2 linked regions of the Homo sapiens genome follow. The protein of the gene in region 1 binds, or shares a complex with, the protein of each later gene. Each region holds a gene or a part of one and is shown in the gene's direction. Other genes may lie near its edges.

The links.
Region 2: the proteins of DBF4 (region 1) and CDC7 are in contact, whole or in part, in a crystal structure (PDB 6YA8), measured with the Homo sapiens proteins. Residues at the interface, in NP_006707.1 of Homo sapiens: Thr210, Arg211, Thr212, Gly213, Arg214, Leu215, Lys217, Pro218, Phe219, Val220, Lys221, Val222, Glu223, Asp224, Met225, Ser226, Gln227, Leu228, Tyr229, Arg230, Pro231, Phe232, Tyr233, Leu234, Leu236, Met239, Pro240, Ile242, Asn243, Tyr244; in NP_001127891.1 of Homo sapiens: Asn56, Val57, Phe58, Ala77, Gln78, Leu79, Gln80, Ile87, Ile93, Pro94, Thr95, Ser96, His97, Pro98, Ile99, Arg100, Ile101, Ala102, Leu105, Gln106, Thr109, Lys121, Tyr122, Cys123, Phe124, Arg125, Asn127, Asp128, Val130, Leu143.

The regions. Positions count from the first base shown.
Region 1 is NC_000007.14:87,871,004-87,881,819, forward strand, and holds the start of DBF4 (protein DBF4 homolog A), read left to right. Parts: upstream 1-5,489; 5' UTR 5,490-5,729; coding exon 5,730-5,775; intron 5,776-7,049; coding exon 7,050-7,222; intron 7,223-10,816. UniProt on the Homo sapiens protein: Regulatory subunit for CDC7 which activates its kinase activity thereby playing a central role in DNA replication and cell proliferation. Required for progression of S phase.
Region 2 is NC_000001.11:91,500,473-91,511,351, forward strand, and holds the start of CDC7 (cell division cycle 7-related protein kinase), read left to right. Parts: upstream 1-378; 5' UTR 379-476; exon of another isoform or gene 477-1,181; 5' UTR 1,182-1,244; coding exon 1,245-1,359; intron 1,360-7,381; coding exon 7,382-7,465; intron 7,466-7,789; coding exon 7,790-7,925; intron 7,926-10,879. UniProt on the Homo sapiens protein: Kinase involved in initiation of DNA replication. Phosphorylates critical substrates that regulate the G1/S phase transition and initiation of DNA replication, such as MCM proteins and CLASPIN.

The DNA.
Region 1 (10,816 bases):
GGGCTTCAGGGGTCACAGGCATCCCTCTCCTAGATGCTGCCACAGGGCCGGTACAGTTTGCTCTTGCTGGCGCCCAAAAGCACTCGCCCTAGCTTCTGCATCCACTCACCTGCACTCCCCATCATGTGAGGGGTGGAACAGCGAGTGAGTAGAGTTTGCCCCTGCCGGTGCTCATGCACTCCAGTTCCCATGCATGAAGGCGTCAGGGAAATACCGTGATTCAATGATACAGGCTGCCATGCTGTGAACTGCCCTATGTGGAGGCCCATTCGGGCAACAAAAACAGCCTCCAGATAATAGCATTGAACTGAGGCCCTTCAGACCAACAAGCCAAAGGAAAGTGAATCTTGCCAACAACCCCTAGTGAGCTTTAAATTAGATCCCTCCCTGGTTGAGCCTTGAGATAAATGCAACCTCAGCCAACACCTTCACTGCACTGTCCTGAGAGATCCTGAGCTTGCTTAACTAAGCTGCATCCAGATTCCTGACACACAAAAACTGTGAGATAATAAAGATTAGTTATTTTAAGATAACTACATTTTGGAATAATTTGTTATACAGCAACAGGTAGTATCTATTGAGATGATACATACGGTTTTTCCTTTTTGGTCTGGTTACATGGTGATTTACACTGCTTGATTCCTGGAATAAACCTCCATTTACTCATGATGTTTTATCCTTTGTATATAGAATTGGTTTTCATTTGTTAAATTTTTGCTAAGAATTTAACCATCTATGTTTATTAGGGATGCTGATCCATAATTTTTTGTATCATCTTTGCCTTTCTTAAAATGCACATGTGAGAGAATTCACCAGTGAAGCTATCCAGACCTGGAGTTTTCTTTAGTAGATATAAGAATATTTAGGTTATTTCTTCTCCTGTAAGCTTTGACAGTTAGTGTACTTCAAGTAATTTGTCCATTTCATTTAAGTTGTTGAATTTATCAGCATAAGGTTGTTCATAATATTACTTTGTTGTCATTTTAACATCCATTGGTTCTGTAGTTGTGTACCTTTCACTAATTTATTAAAGATCTTAATAAATGAAGAAATATTACCATTTCATAGACTGGAAGAATAAATGCTATAAAGATATAAATTCTTCCAAATTTATCTATAGATTCACAGGAATCATAACCTCTTACTTAATCTTCTTACATAATCTTCTTACTTTTGTGGGTTTGACAAACTCTTTTCCAAAACTTACATGGAAGTAGAAAATGGCAAGAACTACCTAAAGTTTTGAGATGCAGCTAAAGCAGCATTTACAATGAAATTTATAGCATTACATGCTTGTATTAGAGAAGGCCTAAAATTAACTATCTAAGCTAAAAACAAAAGAGCAAATTAGAACCAAAAGAAGAAGAAATGAAAATAAAAACCAATAAAATTGAAAGCTGAAAAACAATAGGAAAAAACAATAAAAGCTGGTCCCTTGAGGCAAAAGAATAAAAAATAAATAAACGTCCAGTCAGATGATAGAGGAAGAAGAAAACCTTTGACAACATCCCACACCCACCATGACTGAAAGGCTTGAGCAAGCCTTTCAATCCTTTTCAATGAAAGGGAAATTCCTCGGTTTGATAAGAACCATTTACTACTCTCATCATTTCTATTCAACAAAGTACTGAAGAATTTAGCCAGTACAATAAAGCAAGATAAACAAATTAAATGCAGGCTGGGCACAGTGGCTCACGCTTGTAATCCTAGCACTTTGGGAGGTCGAGGCTGGCGGATCATCTGAGGTCAGGAGTTCAAGACCAGCCTGGCCAACACAGTGAAACCCTGTCTCTACTAAAAATACAAAAATTAGCTGGGCATGGTGGCAGGCGCCTGTAATTTAAAGTGAACACACTTAGGATGTCTTCAAGGGCCTGATAATGCTGAATTTACCCTGGTTTCCCAGCCCACAGTCACCTGAGACATTAACTACAGTTCCACAGCCACTAACCAATCCTATCCTTTCATGCACTTAGCCTGCAAAACTAAGAATTTAACCTTACATATAACCTTAAGCCCTCCAATTCACCAGGATAGTGAGACTATGAAATGTGAAAATTAATAAAAATAGATCAGAACACATTTCAGAAGACGACATATCAATAGTTGGCAAATGAATCAAACAGGAATGATTATACCCAAATGAGCAGGAGATAAAGGATGAATCTAAGCTAGGTTTGCTATGGACAGGAAAAAATAATTGCTGAGCCAGGTGAAGAGGCTTAGGCAAAAGAAAGAAAAAAAAAGTGATAAGTACTACAAAATTAATTTGTCTAGATTCTAGAACAAAAAATTTATATTTGGGTATGTGTGAGGTAATCTGAAAGATCAGATTAGGTCTCTGATAATCACAAAAAGTTGTGGAGTAGACTGAACAATATTATCTTCATTTATAGATAAGTAAATTCTAGCATAGAAAGGTTAACTTTTTTTTTTTTTTTTTTTTTGAGAGGGAGTCTCGCTCTGTTGCCCACGCTGGAGTGCAGTGGCGCAATTTCCGCTCACTGCAACCTCCGCCTTCTGGGTTCAAGTGATTCTCCTGCCTCAGCCTCCTGAGTAGCTGGGGTTACAGGCGGGGACCACCATGCCCAGCTAATTTTTGTATTGTTAGTACAGCCAGAGTTTCACCATGTTGGCCAGGCTGGTCTCCAACTTCTGACCTCGTGATCCGCCACCTCGGCCTCCCAAAGTGCTGGGATTATAGGCTTGAGCCACCGTGCCCAGCCAGAAAGGTTAACATTTGCCCATGGTCACAAAACTAGTTAGGGACAGGGCCAGCAATGAATAAAATTCATTTCTCTTGATTCACAGCCACATATTCATTTAATTAGATCATGATTCTGCTCAATGTTCTCCAATTTTGCCTAATATAACTCTTGAACAAAGTTTCTCACCATAAATAACCCTGCCCCCATTCACTTCTTCTTAAATGTCTACCCTTCCTCTGAAGAAATGTTTTCAAGCATATTTTCAAGATCTACTTTAAGACAAACCCTACCCTCTTACCAACAGACCTGATTACTGGACAATAAAAAGGAGGTTTCTATCCTTACTGACTACAGCCATATCCTTTCTGTGGCTACTAACAGATTTAGGTTCCAGTAATATTTTAAAAACTAACCTTGGATAATAGATTAGAAAATTACTAACTATTGCATAAAGCGGACTTCCTGCTTATTTATTGCTTGGAATTACCATCTTCAGTGCAGTCGAGGGTGAGTCTAACCGCATAGGGTGCAACTATGTTACTGTCCTTCCTCTTCACGGCAAATAAGACACACAATTCATCTTTCACAAGACCATAAAATGGGACTTCCTTTTTTAAAAAAAAGTTCCTCAATAGAAGCATGCTTAAAAATCTTTCCCACATCCTCTAAACCTTCCAAAGATCCAGTCTTCCCTTCATTATACTTTCCTACAATAACAAATTTTTTTGAAAGAGTACACTCAACCTGTCTGAACTTCAAGATTATAATTTTTATCTAGTACTGTACTTATCTCTGCCACCTACTCAAATTACCCTTAAGGAAACCAAGGATACCTGAAACGCCAAAATCAAATACTTATTTTTCAAGTCTTAACCTTATCTGTCCTGGGGATGAAGGAACTGGTGCAGTGTTCACTAGAATGATAGTAATTATGGAGCTCTTAAGGAGCTCTACTCTGTGCCAGGCACTGTACTAAGCATTCAAAAATGTTCATTTAATCTTCACAACATCCCTGAGAAGTACTACCCCCTTTTAATAGATTAAAATTGGGGCTCAAAATTACCCAGAGGCCAAGTAGTTAGTGAAGCCCATATGATTCCAATGTTTGCAGTCTCTTCCCAATTCTGTGGCATTTTCTCCATCTCTTTCACTATTTCATCAACGACGCTTATAATCAATTCTCTTATTTCACATGCTCTCCTTGGCAATTTCATTTCCTCCCAAAGCTTTAACTACATTCTATATTAGTGCTTCCCAACTTTTTAAATCTTTCTGTAAATATAAACATTTTGTGCTCTCTGTAGCTTATATTTTGAAAATAAGTTTTTTCCCATAGAAATTACAATATTGAATATGTTTGTTCAAACTACACTTCCTTCCACCACTCAAGATCTGTTAACCTCTAATGAATTGCCCCATGATTGACATCAATAGACCTTGATGCAGAAATATTTTATTGGAGAGATATCAAATCAATCTCTATTTCCTCTTCCCATGTCCACTTCTGCTAGACATTTCTCTCGAGTCATAAACATCTTTAACTGTCTAATAAGCATAGTTCCATGACTGTCGCCCCAGGCCCTTCAACATAAACCTGTCTAAAACCAAACTCTCATTTCCCTTAGCAAACCTGTTCTCTGCGTTCTCCAGCTAATCTTGTCACAACCCACCCTTGTCTATTCTTTAAGGTACCTACCTGCAAAACCGTAACGCTGATACTCTGACTTCCTTGAGCTACCAGGTAAAAAAATCAACCACTACAGGAGTGCCTATTATGGCCTGGAGTAGAGGAATGCAAAATAGTTCAAAATATCCTCTTCCTCCTGAAGAAACAGATTTTTTTTTTTTTTTGGAGAGGCATGTTCCAACTTATAAAATTAAAATATATTCACAAGCATTTTAATTTGATCTTTAATCTCTGTTTTACAGGAAAAAAAAATGAGATGTTACTTTCCACTCCTTCATTGTTGAAATAAACTTACACTCAACTAAAAGAAAACAGGTCTGAATACAATAAAAGTCAACAGGACAGCGCAAATAGCCAACTACCCAAGGACACAAAGTGACCTGGAGGCGTTCTGCGGTGGCGCTGCCGTCAAGGCCGGGGCCGCCTGGCCAGACCCTCCCTCAGACGCCCCCCGGGGCCGCCCTCACTCCCGCACGTCCCTCTGCAGCTGTCCTCAGCCGGTGGGGTCGGCAGTGACCGCGGGAAAACCCCGCTTGCTGTGCGACCCAGGGCGCGCTGAGCAGGGGCTGCGGCTGCCGCCGCTGTCCGGCTCCGGTTCCGGCCCCGGCCCCGGGCCCGGCCAGAGCTGAGTCCGGACTCAGCCAAAGCCCCTCGCCTTCAGCTTCCCAGACGTCCGACCAGTGGAAAATTAGCATACCTGGGGCAGAAGGCAGCTGCAGGGCCGGCAGTCCTGGCAAACCTAGAAGGCGGGAATAACCCTGGTGACGGGCGGGGCCGGGCTCCGGCGCTAACTGCATCCACTAGGTTTGGTCAACACAGAGCCGCGCCAACTCTCTGAGGCTGCGCCAAGACCTGAAGCGGCGGACCGAGAGCCCGGGTCTGAGACTGAGAGAGCAACGGAATGGAGGCGGGGTAGAGGCGGAAACACAACCTGCAGGGCCAGAGCGAGGCGCGAGAAGGACGGCGGCGTGAGGGGGCGGGGCGCGCAGCGCGAGAAGGCAGGCACGAGGGGCGAGCGCGAGGCGGGGCACGGCGCGTGGCGTGAGACGGGGCGGGGCGCGCGTATCGGCGCCGCGGCCGCGTGACGCGTTTTCAAATCTTCAACCGCCGCAGCCCACTCGTTTGTGCTTTGCGCCTTCCTCCTCCGCGCCTTGGAGCCGGATCCGGCCCCGGAAACCCGACCTGCAGACGCGGTACCTCTACTGCGTAGAGGCCGTAGCTGGCGGAAGGAGAGAGGCGGCCGTCCTGTCAACAGGCCGGGGGAAGCCGTGCTTTCGCGGCTGCCCGGTGCGACACTTTCTCCGGACCCAGCATGTAGGTGCCGGGCGACTGCCATGAACTCCGGAGCCATGAGGATCCACAGTAAAGGACATTTCCAGGGTAAGAAGCCCCTCCTCCGCCTGCAGTCCCTTTAATCCTTTCCTCCCCTCGTGGTTCCACCATTGATTCTTCAGACTTCTCCCGCCGGGTCCTCAGCTTCTTTTCTTCTGACCGGCCTCTGGGGTCTGAAGGAAGGAGCCCCCGTTCAGTGTTTTGCCTAAGAAGGAACGGATCCTGACCCGGCCCCTCGAGCGCTCTGCCGTTTACAGCGGCGGTCCCAGATTGATTCCCGGTCGTGCCTTCGGTTGAAAACTAGCAAACAATGTGCAGATCCGGGACCTCGCCGGGACTGCGGCGCTGTCTGCTCCCGGGCTCTCGCATATGCTAAGCCTCCGCCCGGGCCCTTGGAGGCGACGGACTGCATCCTCAATTTAAAGTCAGACGCGCTCGTGGCTTTTCGCTTCAGGATTAGATTGAGTGATTGTGGGTGGATTTTTGGTCTTACCCTTGAAAGTTTATTTTCCTTTCCTCATAAGTTGGGGGAAAGCATTGTATTTCAAACACCCCATTGCTGGTTTCAACATTACAAACAGGGAAACAAAAGCAAATTTCCATTTTCAGTCACTTTATTTGGTGAAACATTCCAGCACCTAAGTTTTTTGTACAGGTGTTTGTGTGTGTGTAGTAACTACCAATTTAAGAACAGATTGCGTTTGAAAAATTAATTTTTAAAGCAGTTGCTTGGATCTCAGATCTGTTTCTAATGAAAATAATGAAAGGTTTAGTTCTTCGTAATGGACCGTTAAGTTCTTAATACGTAGACAAATTGTATGTGAAATGGACCGTTTAGTTGTTAATATGCAGACAAACTTTATATGAAACTAAAACTTGAGCAGTCTGAAACCCTTGAGGACTAGGTTATTCTGCGTAACAGAGGATTCTTTCATCGCTAAATGAAGTTTAAACACCAGTTTTGAATGTTCAGCAGAATGGCAGATGCTCAATAAATAGTTGAGTATTAAATATCCCCATGGAGTTTACATCCTAAAAAAAGAAAATCTTTCAAAAGAGTTTTATATAGTTCCGTGCCTCAGGAATAAACACACGAATATTTCTTGCTGAGTCAACTATTATTTTACAATATGCGGTCTGTGAAAGTATATAGGGCATTTTGCCTCTATCCTAAGTAGTACTACAAAGAAATACATTTCAATGCTAATAACTTAAACTGGTAGGGTTGTAAGGATTTTTATTCTGTAATATTGTATAATGAAATATTTTAAAAATAGTAAAAGTGTCTGTGTAAAACATCTGATTCTAAACATCTTTAATAGGTGGAATCCAAGTCAAAAATGAAAAAAACAGACCATCTCTGAAATCTCTGAAAACTGATAACAGGCCAGAAAAATCCAAATGTAAGCCACTTTGGGGAAAAGTATTTTACCTTGACTTACCTTCTGTCACCATATCTGAAAAACTTCAAAAGGACATTAAGGATCTGGGAGGGGTAAGTGAAAACCGTACACTGGCATAGAAGGAAAAATTTGTAACTAGTACTTTCTACTGTGTAATCATTTAAATTTTTCATTTTGGAAAACGCTTCTATTAGCACCAAGCTTAACATTTTTATCAGCTGTTTATCGTTAACAAAAAACCATTTGTTTTAACCTTTTGTGGACTGACAGACCTTTCAGGTTTCTCTGATTAGCAGTCTAGTGTAAAGTTCTTAGAGTGTAAGACTCCCCTGTCCTAGTGGAACTGCTCATTGACTGCTTACTGTAATGTTGGAATGTCCTCCAGATAACAGCAATTTCTTGATTATGAATCTTGGGGAGCTACATAAGTTTGTCTGGACTAGTGTAACAGTTAAGAATGTTACTACAGAACAGCCATGCAAACCACAGTTAAAATTGTTCCTGAGTGATACAGATGTTGTTTCAACAGAATGAATGTTATTAAAGGAAAAGAAATTTGCATTAAGAATCTGGAATACCTTCTTTCCTACCTTATACACTGATTAGATGATTGGGAAATTAGAAAACTCAGGCAAAATTCTAGGACCTTAATAGGATTAAGGTTGATATTGGCTGAATTTTGGCAAATGAGGTAATTAAGATTTTTTTCTGTTTAAAAGGTTCATGCTGGACTTTGACTTTCTGAAGGTCTGCGTCTTTGAATGTCTAAACTGATCCTTTCATTCCCAGACTAGTAACTTTTCAATTTATTTTTATTTTTATTTTGAGACGGAGTCTCATTCTATATGGCCTAGGTTGGAGTGCAGTGGTGCGATCTCAGCTCACTGCAACCTCCTCCTCTCAGGTTCAAGTGATTCTTGTGCCTCAGCCTCTGTCTCCTGAGTAGCTACGATTACAGGCATGTGCCACCACTCCTGGGTAATTTTTGTATTTTTAGTAGAGTCAGGGTTTCACCGTGTTGCCCAGGCTGGTCTCAAACTTCTAACCTCAGGTGATTTGCCCACCTCAGCCTTCTAAAGCGCTGGGATTGCAAGCATGAGCCCTCCAGGCCCAGCCGATTCCCAGACTAGAAACTTATCAGAAGAACATGTGCTAACAGGTTTCCTGGAACTGTTAATATATTTTATTTACTTATCTCTGAAAAGTTATTCTACTTTTTTACTATTCATTTTGTTAAACTAAAACACTGTCACATGCTTGTAATAGTTGTATTTATGGTAATGATCATATGACAGCATTCTTAAAGGTCATGTTTTCTAGGCCTGCCACCCTATTGACTATACACCTATTAAGAGTATCTTAATGTGTTAAGGACCTTAGACATTGAGTAAAAAATACCCCTTCATCTTAGAAACAAAGTACTTGAGGTCCAGAGAAAGTAAATGGCCCAATTAGAGCAGTATTAGCTTCTTAATTCCCACAGCAACATAGTACCTGCACCATTCTGTTCCTCTAGCAATCAATGGCTACAAATGGCTATCTGGCTGGTAATTCACACCTGTAATCCTAGCACTTTTGGAGGCCAAGGCAGGTAGATGACTTGAGGCCAGGAGTTCAAGACCAGCCTGGGCAACATGGCAAAACTCCATGTCTACTGAAAAATACAAAAATTAGCCAAGCATGGTGGTGCATGCCTGTAGTCCCAGCTATTCGGGAGGCCGAGGCATGAGCATCACTTGAACCTGGGAGGCGGAGGTTGCAGTGAGCCAAGATTGTGCCACTGTACCCCAGTATGAGTGACAGTGAGACCCTATGTCCAAAAAAAAAAAAAAAAGGTAGCTCAAAGTAGCTATCTGATACAGTTTGATGACAATTTTCTCAAATATGATGAACAACCCATTAACTCTAGGTCTAATGGTCTAAATCAGTGATACTTAGATTTGTGTTTTTATCAGTAGAACCCTTTAAACAAAATAATATTCAGAAGTCCAATGTGTAAAGCCTGTAAAAAGGGAACCCCTTGGGCTAAAACAGCAGTACAGAGGCTAAAGCAAGAACTACTTGCCCCGTCACCTTCTTTCTTCTATCTCCACAGCAGTTCCTGAGGTAATTGCAAGAAACAAATTTTGAATTACTTCTGCCATACATAATAGTTGAGGGACCTTTTGGTTTTACATACTTAGTCTTTACCCCTGAAATGATTGAAGTAGACCAGTGAAGTTAGGAGCATATTAAGGGTGTAAGTTCCCAAATTTTCCTTTGGATTTCCCAAAAATCCAAAGCTGTGGATTTTCAATGGAATTTGATTTATTAACTTTCTCCTAAAAAATGTCTTATTTATTGAATTCTGATCTTCCCATACTATCTTTTCTATAATTAATGATATTTAATCCTCAGGTCCTGGTTTCTGTCTTCAGCACATTTACTGTTTCTATCACTAAAAAAGATTTTGTCATAACGATCTTCTACATGAGTTAATTTATCTTCACATCATTACTTTAGGTGCCTTTTTAATTCACCATTTCACGTACTTTGGTTTCTATAATCTCGGTGAAAACATCTTAATATCCCATTTATCTGCAGAGTATGCTTCTGACAAATTTAACCACTGAGAGCACAGCACCCAGATTCTGATATAAAGGGGAAATACCTTTAATAGTGCAAGAAAAGTAGGTGTTACAGAACCATCTAAGGAGGACATGGGATCAGCCACAGTTAGGTCCATGTCTAAATAGTTTTGGCTAAAATAAGGCAATTGGAGAGGAACAGAAATGTAGGCCGATACCTTGGCGTATTAGCTTGAACTGTAAAATGTTTGATGTTCGTCATGATCACCTTGAGTCATCAGAAAATACGTTTTGAGTTTACTCTTTAAATGGCATAGATTCAACAATATCTAATACATTGAAGACCCTGGTAAAATTGATTCAACAAATGTTTGAGTATGATGTGCACTGCACTCTGTGTTTTGGTAGATTCAAAAATGAATCCAGCCAGGCTCGGAGGCTCACGCATGTAATCCTAGCACTTTGGGAGGCTGAGTTAGGCGGATCACTTGAGGTCAGGAGTTTGAGACCAGCCTGGCCAACATGGTGAAACCCCATCTCTACTAAAAATACAAAAATTTAGCTGGGCATGGTGGCGCACACTTGTAATCCCAGCTACTGGGGAGGCTGAGGCAGGAGAATCTCTTGAACCTGGGGGTTGGAGGTTGCAGTGAGCCAAGATTGTGCCACTGCACTCCACCTGGGCAACAGAGCGAGACTGTGTCTCAAAAGAAAAATAAAATAAAAAATGAATCCTTATGTCCATCCCATCCTCATGTTCTAACCTAGCTAGAGATGACATTGGTACAAGTAATTGTGTTAATAATACAACATAGAATGTCAAGAGAAAGGAGAGATTAGTTCCAGCTGAGGAATTGTGGGTTTTGTTCACACACAACTGGAACACGGCTTTGAAGAATGATGAAGATTTGGGCATGTGGGAATTCATTCAAAAATTATTCCACCACTGTCTCCAGTATATCAGCACTATTTTAGATCCTAGAGATACAAAAATAAGTAAAATATAACCCTCTAGGTATTCTTTGTCTAGTGGAAACCTCAGACAACTGAATAATTTATGTTAGAGTGTTGTCAATGCTTTGACAGAAATATGTAGAAATTGCTATTAGAACACAGAGA
Region 2 (10,879 bases), on another chromosome or scaffold:
ATTACATTTTCTGCTTGTTTTTAACGGGGAAGTAGGGCACTCAACGAAAAGGAAATAAAAGCAGAGTCAAGAAAGTGCCTTTTATCCATGGAGTGCCCAATGTGTTGTGCGGCCGGCCACGTATATAGGGATGTGTCAGCACCTGAGATTTTTCCTTCTCTGAGCTAGCTTCTTTCCTGGAAATCATGCTGGGCCCTTAGCCTTATGGTTCACCCTGTTTTTTAAGATCATCCACGGGCTTCATTCCCGTAACCGCTCTTCTAGCTGGCCAAGGCGGCGGGAAGAAACCCCACCCTCTTGCGCAAACGCCCAGTAGCGGAATCCGCGGGGTCGAGGGCTTTAGTGTGCGCATGTGCAACCAGAGCGGCGGCGGGAAGTGTTGCGCAGGCGCATCCGATCGACTCGGTAGGTGGGGATCTCTTGGAGACGGCGACCCAGGCATCTGGGGAGCCACAGAAGTCGTACTCCCTTAAACCGTGAGTTTCCGACGGTTTGTTCCATGGCGCGGGATTGTGAGGGATTAGGAACGAATTCTGGATCGTGACTTCGGTTTTCTCGCCGTGCAGTTCCTTTTCCCGCCCCCCTTCGGATCCCTCCGACCTGCGGCGGGAAAGTCGCGCGCCTGCGCACTAAGCATCTGGTTCGGTCTCTGGCCCGAGGGAAGCCGGTCCTTCCCGGCTGAGCTCGCGGCCAGCGCTGGCCGGCGGATTCCCATTCATTCACCCTTCTCCTCCTCCGCCCAGTACTCGTGGCCAGGGTCGTATCAGTTCTCCGTCAACTTGCTTGGGGCCTTGGACGAGCCTCCTGGCGCTTCCTGTCAGTGGCGAAAAGGTTTTCTCCCTCAGTTCTTTTCCTGACTTCAAACCGCCCCCGGCGCTCGGCCCCTCCCCCACGCGGTCCCGCTGGCTGTGCCGGACTGGCAGCCTCGCCGTTTCCCACTGCGCCTGCTGCTGCGCGGGTGCCCAAGCCGGGAAATTCTCCCTGCAGCCCCCTGCCGGTGTTTCTGATAGGTGAAAATAAAGCACATGGAATTCCTTAGACAAGGCCACAGTATGCCCTACTGTGGAGGTTTGGACACATCGTGCGTTTGAAAATGTTTGCCCCTTTGGGGGGCAGTAGCATGTTTTTAGTGCGTGGTTTAGCGAGTGATCTAAATTTCTCTAGTGTTCTAATTTTCACAGCTGCTTTGCTCCCCCTGTGGATGTAACCCCTTAGCTGGCATTTTGCATCTCAATTGGCTTGTGATGGAGGCGTCTTTGGGGATTCAGATGGATGAGCCAATGGCTTTTTCTCCCCAGCGTGACCGGTTTCAGGCTGAAGGCTCTTTAAAAAAAAACGAGCAGAATTTTAAACTTGCAGGTACGTGTTTAAATCCAAAGATGTACAGTTATAAAGATTTTTCAGGCAACAATTCTGTGTTTTCAATTCCTCTCAAAAAATAAGATTGAATCTTATAAAGTGAATTGTATGTTTCTATAGGACAGTGTTAAAACAGAGCTTCGTATGATCTAAATGTAGGACTGAATTGCGATTTGGAAGACTGTAATACAACCTGTTTTACGGTTGAAGTTGCTATGGTCTCAGTATTGGTAATTAAGAATGCAGAAATTTGATGATGCCCAAATTAAATTTCTCTTTTGTATCTGTGTTCTTATCTCTACTCACCACATTGCCTTAAGCTTAAATGTAGAAATTGACACTGGAGATCATCACTTAAGTATTCAAAAGCAGAACTCACAGACAAAAAAATATGAAATGTTTGTAGCAATAATAAAGCACCATATCTCAGTGTACAGCATGAAATGTTCTTTGACCGTAAACCAGACCTTAGGGTGAATAAGACAGGGTCAAGCAGTGCCTGCTCTTGTACACTCGCATGTGTACCTTCATTTCTGCTCTGGCACAGGACCTGGGACATAGTAGGTATTTGTTAATAATAAATATTTGTTAAATAGAGGAATTCTAGTTGACTGTATTTTTTTTTTTCTGAAAGGGTAGCCAGATCATCTTTCCCATCTTTGTCTTAAGTGAATTCTGTGCTTGTCTAAAAGATACTTATTTTGACCTTTTGTCCATATATTCTTTATAACCCCACCCTAGAAAAATATGACATCACATACTTTCTGCTTTGATGGAAGTCAGTTATCCCACTTACCTAAACTTGAAACTTTAATCTTCAGCTGATGCTTTTTATTTGTTCCCCATATCGTCACCTAGCTTTATTTCTTTTTAGTAAGTATGGCATTGTGTCTTCTTTCCATTCCCATTTCCACCACATTAATTAATTTCCTTACACTTTGTTCCTGATTTACAACAGTTTCTCACCTATGCTGCCTGCTTGCACTTTTCCATTCTTCAGTTCATCTTGTATGTTGGTGCTAGAATAATCTTAAAATGCCACTTTCATCCAGTTTCATGGATACTGTTCCTCTTCCTTTCCATTTTTCCAGCAGTTAGCTGTTTTTTTAGTTCATCTTTCCCTTACTAGTCACTGGACACATAACACAGTAACACAGTCATTGTAGTATTCTTTTTCTATTGCTTAGGACTCTGCATTTTGTCTCCACTGTAAACCCCTTGGCGGCAGTATCTCCTCTGGTTTCTAAAGTATGTTGTGACTTCAGCAGAGTATCTGAATGGATGACTCTGAATTGGTTCTAGCATCATGTTTAGGAGAATGCCACTATTCTAATATTCTGAAAATCTGCTGGGAAGTAATGAATGGGGTGAATTTTATTACGGATTTCAAAAGTTTTGTAGCGTTTATGTAACAGAACATTGGACATTATAATATGATAAATTATAAAACGTGCTAAAACTTTACTCTTATGGTTCTTTTTTAAATATGATCTTAATAACAGCTAAAGTTATATAAACATAACTTCAATAGGGAGCAAAGCTGATGAGGTCCAGGCACATAACAGTCTAGTAATCTAATTGGGAAAGTAAATCAAATTAGATCATGAGACAGGTATATGCCTGCACCTCATCAACTTTACTCCTTATTGAAGTTATATTTTTGATTGGATGTTTTATATATCTTAGCATTCCCAGAGCTTAACAGTGTCCAGCACATAGTAGGTGCTTGAAAATATTTGAATGAATGATTTAATGTAAGGATATAAAGTAAAATACTTAGTGTAATGGATGAATAGCATGTCTCTTTATTTTGAGATATTTGTCAGATTTTTATAACATTTTTCTGATAAACATGATTATTGAAATTTTTGAAGTAAAGAAAGCCAAAATAAAGTCTTTTCCCATTATTGAAATATTGCCACTGTTGACATTTTGTTATATTCCTTTAGCCTTTCTAGGCATACATAGGTACATTTTTTAGAAACTAAATTGGGATCTTGTTTTGTTTTTGTTTTTGAAAAGAGAACCAGAATATGGGATCTTATTTCTGATCTCCATTTTTTTTAATATATATCTTGAATATTGCTCATGTAGTAAATATTCTACAACTGGATTTAAGGTCCATTGCATATTATATTATAATATATTCAATCACCTTTTACTATTGACCCTATAGATTGTTTCTATTTTTTCCTATTAAGAAAAATGCTGTAATGCACAAACTATCTGGCATAATATTGGTCAAATGTTTATTCTTTCACTGTTTTGGCAAGCTTTTTTTTTTTTTTTTGAGACATGGTCTCTCTGTCACACCACTGTCACTGGAGTGCAGTGGTGCAATTACAGCTCACTGCAGCCTTAACTCCTGCACTCAAGCAATCCTACCCCCTCAGCCTCCTGAGTAGCTTGGATTACAGGCATGTGCCGCTACACTCAGCTAATTTTAAATATTTTTTTTAGAAACAGGATCTTGCTATGTTGCCCAGGCTGGTCTCAAACTCCTGGCCTCAAGTGATCCCCTCCTATCTTGGCCTCCCAATGCACTGGGATTACAGGTGTGAGCCACCATGCCTGGCCAGTAAGCTTTTATTTTTTTTTAAGTATCTACTATATGCCAAGTTTTAATAAGTGAGAAAGATCTGTTCAGTGAAAGAATGATGTATAAACTCTATATTGAAAGTCTCCTCCATACTGGTGAACTCTACTGGAAGGAAGGCTTGCTTCATTCTGTTTGCTACAATGACACCCTTAGCCATGCTTCTAAAATGGGCTATGGGTACCATCTTTGTTTGCCTGGGACAGATCTAGCTTACGGCTATTGTCACAATGTAATTATTATTCCTGCTGCCTTTTCACTCAAGAGTGTCCCAGTTTGGGCTTATATTATGTATTATCCCCTAGTTCCAGGAGGTATAAACCAGAGAGTACATGAAGCCCCAGAATAACCATGACTATATGCCTAGAGTGTCAGTTTTAATCCATGACAAGATATTGAAAACGTTTCATTTATGTGATGAATATTTATTGTCTGTTATATACATGTACTTTTTTAGGTGCTAGGGATAAATCAAACCATAAAACAGAAATTAACACTGTGGTAGTTAGACAATAGACAGAGAGTAAACAAAAGAAGTAAATACTGTGCTCAAAAGTGATTAATGTTACTAAGAAAATGTAAAAGGGAAGGGGAGATAGGAAGTATTGGGGAAGGAGATTGTAATTTTAGTGAGTATGGTTGCTCATAGCCTTCTGTAACATTTGAGCTAAGACTTCAAGGTGGTGAAGGAGTGACCTGTGCAGATATTTGGGGAAGAGCATTCCAAACAGAGGAAACGGCAAGTACAAAGACCCTGAAACGGCAAGTACAAAGACCCTGAGATGGGAGTGTGCCTAGCATTCAAGAATAGCAAGGAGGTCATTGTGGCTAGAATGGGGAAGGTAATTGGAATGAAGTCAAAGAGAGATGTAAAGAGGCTTTCTAATGGAGTGAGATGTGAAACCATTAGAGGTTTTGAGCACAATAGTGACAAGGTGACTTAGCTTTATCAGAATACTCTGTTTAAACTCTGTTTGCTATGTTGCAAGCCGACTGGCTACTATGTTACAGATAGACTCCAGGCTGGCAAGGAGTGTAGTTAAGGAGACTATTGGTATATTAAAACCAACTTGGATATATTATGCAGCAGAAAACAAAAGTGACTTAAAATGTCAAAATAGAAGCCTAGACCTTCATGTATAAAATAGAGGCATTTAAATAATTTTTAGCATATTATAGATTTTCGGGATCCTCCTCCAGTCCTCAAAGTCTGTTTCATTTGTCTGTCTTTAGTACTGTTTTCCAGCTTTTGACATGAATGCACTTTTCTGCTTTCTGCTGTCATTTCCCACTTCAGAATTTGAGGATATTGCATTCACTTTGGTTGCCAGGAAGTTTTACTGTTGTTTAAAATTGTTGAAGTTGTTCTGAAGTGACAGGAAACCTTAATAAACATTTTGATTTTTGTAAAGAGGAGTAGATGCATAATAAGTGAGTAGTGGTGTGGAAGTACCCTTAATGTTTCTCCTCCCTTTCACATCTGTTCTCCACTTGTCATTTTTCTGCTTAAAAACTTCCTATAGCTTTCATGTGCATTCTCTCTTGTCTTCCTCAGCCACATTCTATTTCTATTATTGTTATTATTGTTATTATTATTGAGACAGGGTCTCCCTCTTCCATCACCCAGGCTGGAGTACAGTGGCACGATCATAGTTTAGTAACCTCAAACTCCTGGGCTCAAGGTATCCTTCTGCCTCAGTCTCTGTAGCTGAGACTACAGGCCCGTGTTACAAAGCCCAGCTAATTTTTGTTTGTTTGTTTGTTTTTTAGCTTTTTTAAGAGATAGGGTCTCAAACACCTGGCCTCAAGCAGTCTTCTTGCCTTGGTCTCCTAAAGTGCTGGGATTACAGGCCTGAGCCACCGCCCCAGGCCACATTGTATTTCATTGTCTCTCAGCCCTCCCCCTACCCTAATCATCCAAGCCTTTTTTTTTTCTTGTTCCTGTCTTTACAGACGTAGTTAATTTTTCCTAAAATGTTTTCTTCCACTTTCACTACTTGGTGAATGCTTCAGAACAAAACTTAGCTGTCAACTGAAGGCTTCCTATCACCTTCAGAAATCCTCCCCAACCTAGTAGTATATACATTCTTTTATTACAGGTGTCACCTTGTATTAAGAATGATAACATGTTTCCTTTACTAGACCAAGCTCTTAGTGGCTGCATCAAATTTATTGGTTTTTTTTACATACCCATTGCTGAGCATTTTTTAAGACAGCGTTTATTTAAATGAATTAGTTCTAGCCAGGTGCGGCGGCTCACACCTGTAATCCCAGCACTTTGGGAGGCCAAGGTGGGCAGATCACTTGAGGTCAGGAGTTCAAGACCAGCCTGGCCATTGTGGTGAAACCCCGTCTCTACTAAAAACACAAAAATTAGCTGGGCGTGGTGTTGCGTGCCTGTAATTCCAGCTGCCCATGAGGCTGAGGCATGAGAATCTCTTGAACGCAGGAGGCAGAGGTTGCAGTGAGTGGAGATTACATCACTGCACTCCAACCTGGGCAACAGAGTGAGACTCCATCTCAAAAAAGAAAGAAAATTAGAAAATATATATAATCAGCAACACCTCTGTGAAATTGGGCAAATGATTTAACCTCCCTGAATTGAGTTTCCTTATCTGAAAAATCAGGATAATCATTCCTGCTCTGCCAAGTTCACAGTACTGTTAGGAAGACCTCAAAAGATACTGCATGTGCCGGTGCTTTGAAAATGTCTTAAACTTATGCTATATAGGGCTAGTAGAGCCTAGATACTGTAATAAAATCTGAAGACTTATCTAGTTCTCTTCTGTATCCAGTAGTTTACTGGGTTTTGTATTATTGCCTCCCCTTGTTTTAACTATGTACATTTTTATAAAGAACTGATACTTATTTAAAAGTAGCAATTTATCTGCAGTCAAGGATAGAGGATACTACTGGCAATTGGGACAAATTTTTAAAAATACTTTTTTACATGCTTGAGAGCTTTAGTAGGCCTTCTCTCTGAAAATATAGTGTGAATATTTAATACATAAAATTTTACCAAGCCTTTAAGATTTTGTATCTTTACGGGAAATAGTTTTCAAGAACATCGCAATGTGTCCTTGTCATGCCATCTAGTGATCACAGCACAAATTGTTTAGTTATTTTAAAAATTTGGTGCTTTTTCATGTTGTAATCTCTACAGTAACAATGTATCTCTTAGTATATAATTCCAGTATAGTAGAAATTTGGTGTATTTAATTCTGGGACTGTCATTTTTGTCTGTTCAAGAGGTGTGTGTGAGTTATAGCAACTTGATGGGTTTTAATCTTATCACAATGTTATTAAAACTTATGTATAATTAATTACTCATATTTTATAATTTATTTCATTGAGCTTTTTAAATTTTAAGAAACTGTAAAATATACTGTCATTGATTAAAACTCTAAATTTTTGTTTCCTTGAAAGGTGTTAAAAAAGATATTGAGAAGCTTTATGAAGCTGTACCACAGCTTAGTAATGTGTTTAAGATTGAGGACAAAATTGGAGAAGGTAATCTGGGGATATGCTTTTACTATTTTTACGAGGTCTTTTTTCCATTCTATTTTCCTTTTTTAGTCTTGGTTTTCATTACTATTTCTTATTGAAAAATATACCACTTTTTAGACTATTAAGACCATAGTTTTATTACTAATTATGGTAACAGCTTTTCTTTTTCAACCTTAAAGAAAGAATAAATAATAAATATTTACTGTAAAATGAAGTCCTGTTTTAATGTATTATGCCATTGAAACAGTTTTTACAATCTATCTTAGAATTGTTTCATTAACATTTTTAAAAACCAGATATTGAAAAATTTAATAAATTGTTTTACAGGCACTTTCAGCTCTGTTTATTTGGCCACAGCACAGTTACAAGTAGGACCTGAAGAGAAAATTGCTCTAAAACACTTGATTCCAACAAGTCATCCTATAAGAATTGCAGCTGAACTTCAGTGCCTAACAGTGGCTGGGTAGGCAATTTAAACATATTTTAATTGAACTTGTATATAATTTATAAGATTTTAAAGTAGATATTTAGCAGGGATGAGGGGATTATATGTGAATTAAATACATTTTTCAGTCAAGTGTTTGCAATTTGCTAGCACTTTCCTTCTAACCTTGCAATAGTTAGTTAAATTTATAGTAATTCTTTTAGATTGGATTTCCCTTGAGGCTCGACCTGATTTCCTGTCTTTTATCACTGCTTTTTGTAACCTTCCTGCCAAATCATAAACCTTGGCTTTCATGGTTTACATTATTTTGTAAATGTAGGGAACTCACATTTCACATTTCCCCAGCTATTGACGACCTCATCTAATATTTTATTTAGAATAACAGAATCATCTGGTATGGTTTCTCTCTGCTAGGTCATTTCTGTCAACATATGGACATGATTTAGAATCTTACCCTCCTAAACTGCCCTCCTTCTTCCACCTGCTCCATCATTTCTTTGTTCCCCCTTACAGCCAGACTTCTCAAAAATTATCTGCATACATTGTTTTCATTCCACACCTCTCTTTCACTAAATACCTATTGCGGCTGTTCTTCTCTATGCTAAACTGGAAACTATAGAGTCAATCATTACTCTAGGCATCATTTAACACAATTGACGTGAACCCTTGTCTTGACTTCTGTCCTGCCACACCCTCCTTGTTTTCTTCTTCCCTCATTTGGCCTTTCATTTTCAGTGTCTTTGCTAGCTCTTCCACTTCTATCTGACCCCTAAATATTGGAGTTCCTCGTGCTTGCTCTTAGGTTTCTCTGTATTCTTAGTGTCCTCCATTTCCACATGATCTAAAGTAATGATTCCCAAAAGTATATAGTTAATCTCAGACCTTTTATCTTAACTACAGGTTTGTGTATATCCACCTGCCTATTTAACATTTCCACTTGGTGCCTGATAAATATCTCAAACCTAAAAGACAAACCTAAACCTTAACATACCAAAAAAAAAAAAAAAAACACCACAACAAATGTTCTTATCCACCCGTCTCTGCAAATGGCCCATCTACACACTTGTTTGGGCCAGAAACCTAGAAATCATCCTCATTTTCTCTATTTCTCTCCTAAACCACATTAATCACTAAGTCCTAGCCATTTTGGCTCTAAAGTATATCTAGAAGTTCATCCATGTCTTTCTGTCTTCTCTGCCACTACCTCAGATGAAGCCTAGACTACGACTGTAGCCTGCTTCTTCCTTCTCCCCTTAATTCTGTCTTTACACAGCAGCCAGAATGATCTTTAAAATATAAAATATATATGTATATAACTTAAATTGGGTCATTAGTTCCACCACTTAAAATCTTTCAGTGGTTTCCCTATGTACTTTGAAAAAAAAATTCAACCTTCTCATGCCTATCTTCCCACCTCCCTCACTGTGCTCCATTTCTTTAGTTTATCAAATTTGTCTCAAGAGCTTTCTTACCTCAGGGCCACTGCCCAGACTGTTTCCCCATTCAGGAAGACCTCTCCCAGTCATTGCTTGCTGACCCTTCATCTTCTGATCTGAGCAAGAGTGAAACTGGACGCAGTAGTTCATGCTTGTAATCCCAGCACTTTGGGAGGATTGCTTGAGGCCAGGAGTTTGAGACCTGCCTGGGCAACCTAGCAAGAACCCATCTTTACAAAAAACTTAAAAATTATCCAGGCAAGGTGGCACACATCTGTAGTCCCAGCTACTTGGGAGGCTGAGGTAGGAGGATCGCTTGAGCCCAGGAGTTTGAGGCTGTAATGACCTGCGATCACTCCATTGCACTCCATCCAGCCTGGTCAACAAAACAAGACCCTGCCTCTGAGAAAAAAAAAAAAGAGTGACATTGCTTGAAAGATGTCTTCTCTGAATTAAATTAGATTCTCCTATTTTTTTTTATTGTCATAGCATCTTTAGATTTCTTTCAAAGCCCTTATCGTATTCTGTCATTATAAGTTACCTTGTTATTATCTGTATTGTCCACTAGATAGTAAACTCCATGAGGACAGAAATTCTGTAAATTTTATTCACTATTGCATCACTAATGTCTATAATCCCTAACAGCAAATAACAGTGCCAACTAAATACTGAATGAATGAATAAGCCTGTTTGTTTCAGCCTTCTGTGTATTATAGAAGACAAGAAAATGAGATGGCCTCTATAAAGAATGCTTGCATACATTCTTGTACCCTAAATATGATCATTTCTTTTTCTATATTTTTAACTGTCTCCCTCTACCACTTTTTCTTTTTCTGTGCTTAAAAAAGTACATGCTAAAAATGCCTTCATCTGATCTTACAATGCAGTCAGGCAAATTGTCTTCAGGCTCAGCTTCCATTGTGTTATATTTTCCTTCCTTCTGTTTTGTTTCTTCCTTTCCACTTAAATTGCTGTCTTAAAAATTACCAGTTAATTATTCTTTGCCTAACTAAAAGCCTTCCCTCAGTTGTTATTCTCTTTGACTTCCATGCTAATAACTCTTCCTTCAAAATTCCTTTCTTATTTGGCTCTCTAACTTGGCTTCTTCCAAGCTCAGTTTTCTTTTCTCGCTATTAATTTTCATGTCTGTAGGTATCACTTCTCTGCAGGTACTCTCACTGACTTCTCACTTGTCTTCTCACTTAAGGCTTAGTCCCTTGTCTAGATAACTCTATCAAAATGATGAGGTCTGGTTTTAGATGCTTCTTTTACTGGCTTCTCTACTCATTTTTTGGTATCTCTATTGTTTTCTTACTCAGGCTCAAAATCATAGAAATCACCTTTGTCCTATTTTCCTCTTTTATGAAGCAGTGTAACATAGTGATTAAGAACATATATCTGGAGCAAAATGCCTGGGTTCAAATCCTGGCTCATTGATCTATTAGTTTAGTGACCTTGATTTATTTATTACTGTTACCATCTTATCTGCTAAGTCTTATTAATCTTTTCCCTTTTTTCTCATTCTGCTGCTTCCCC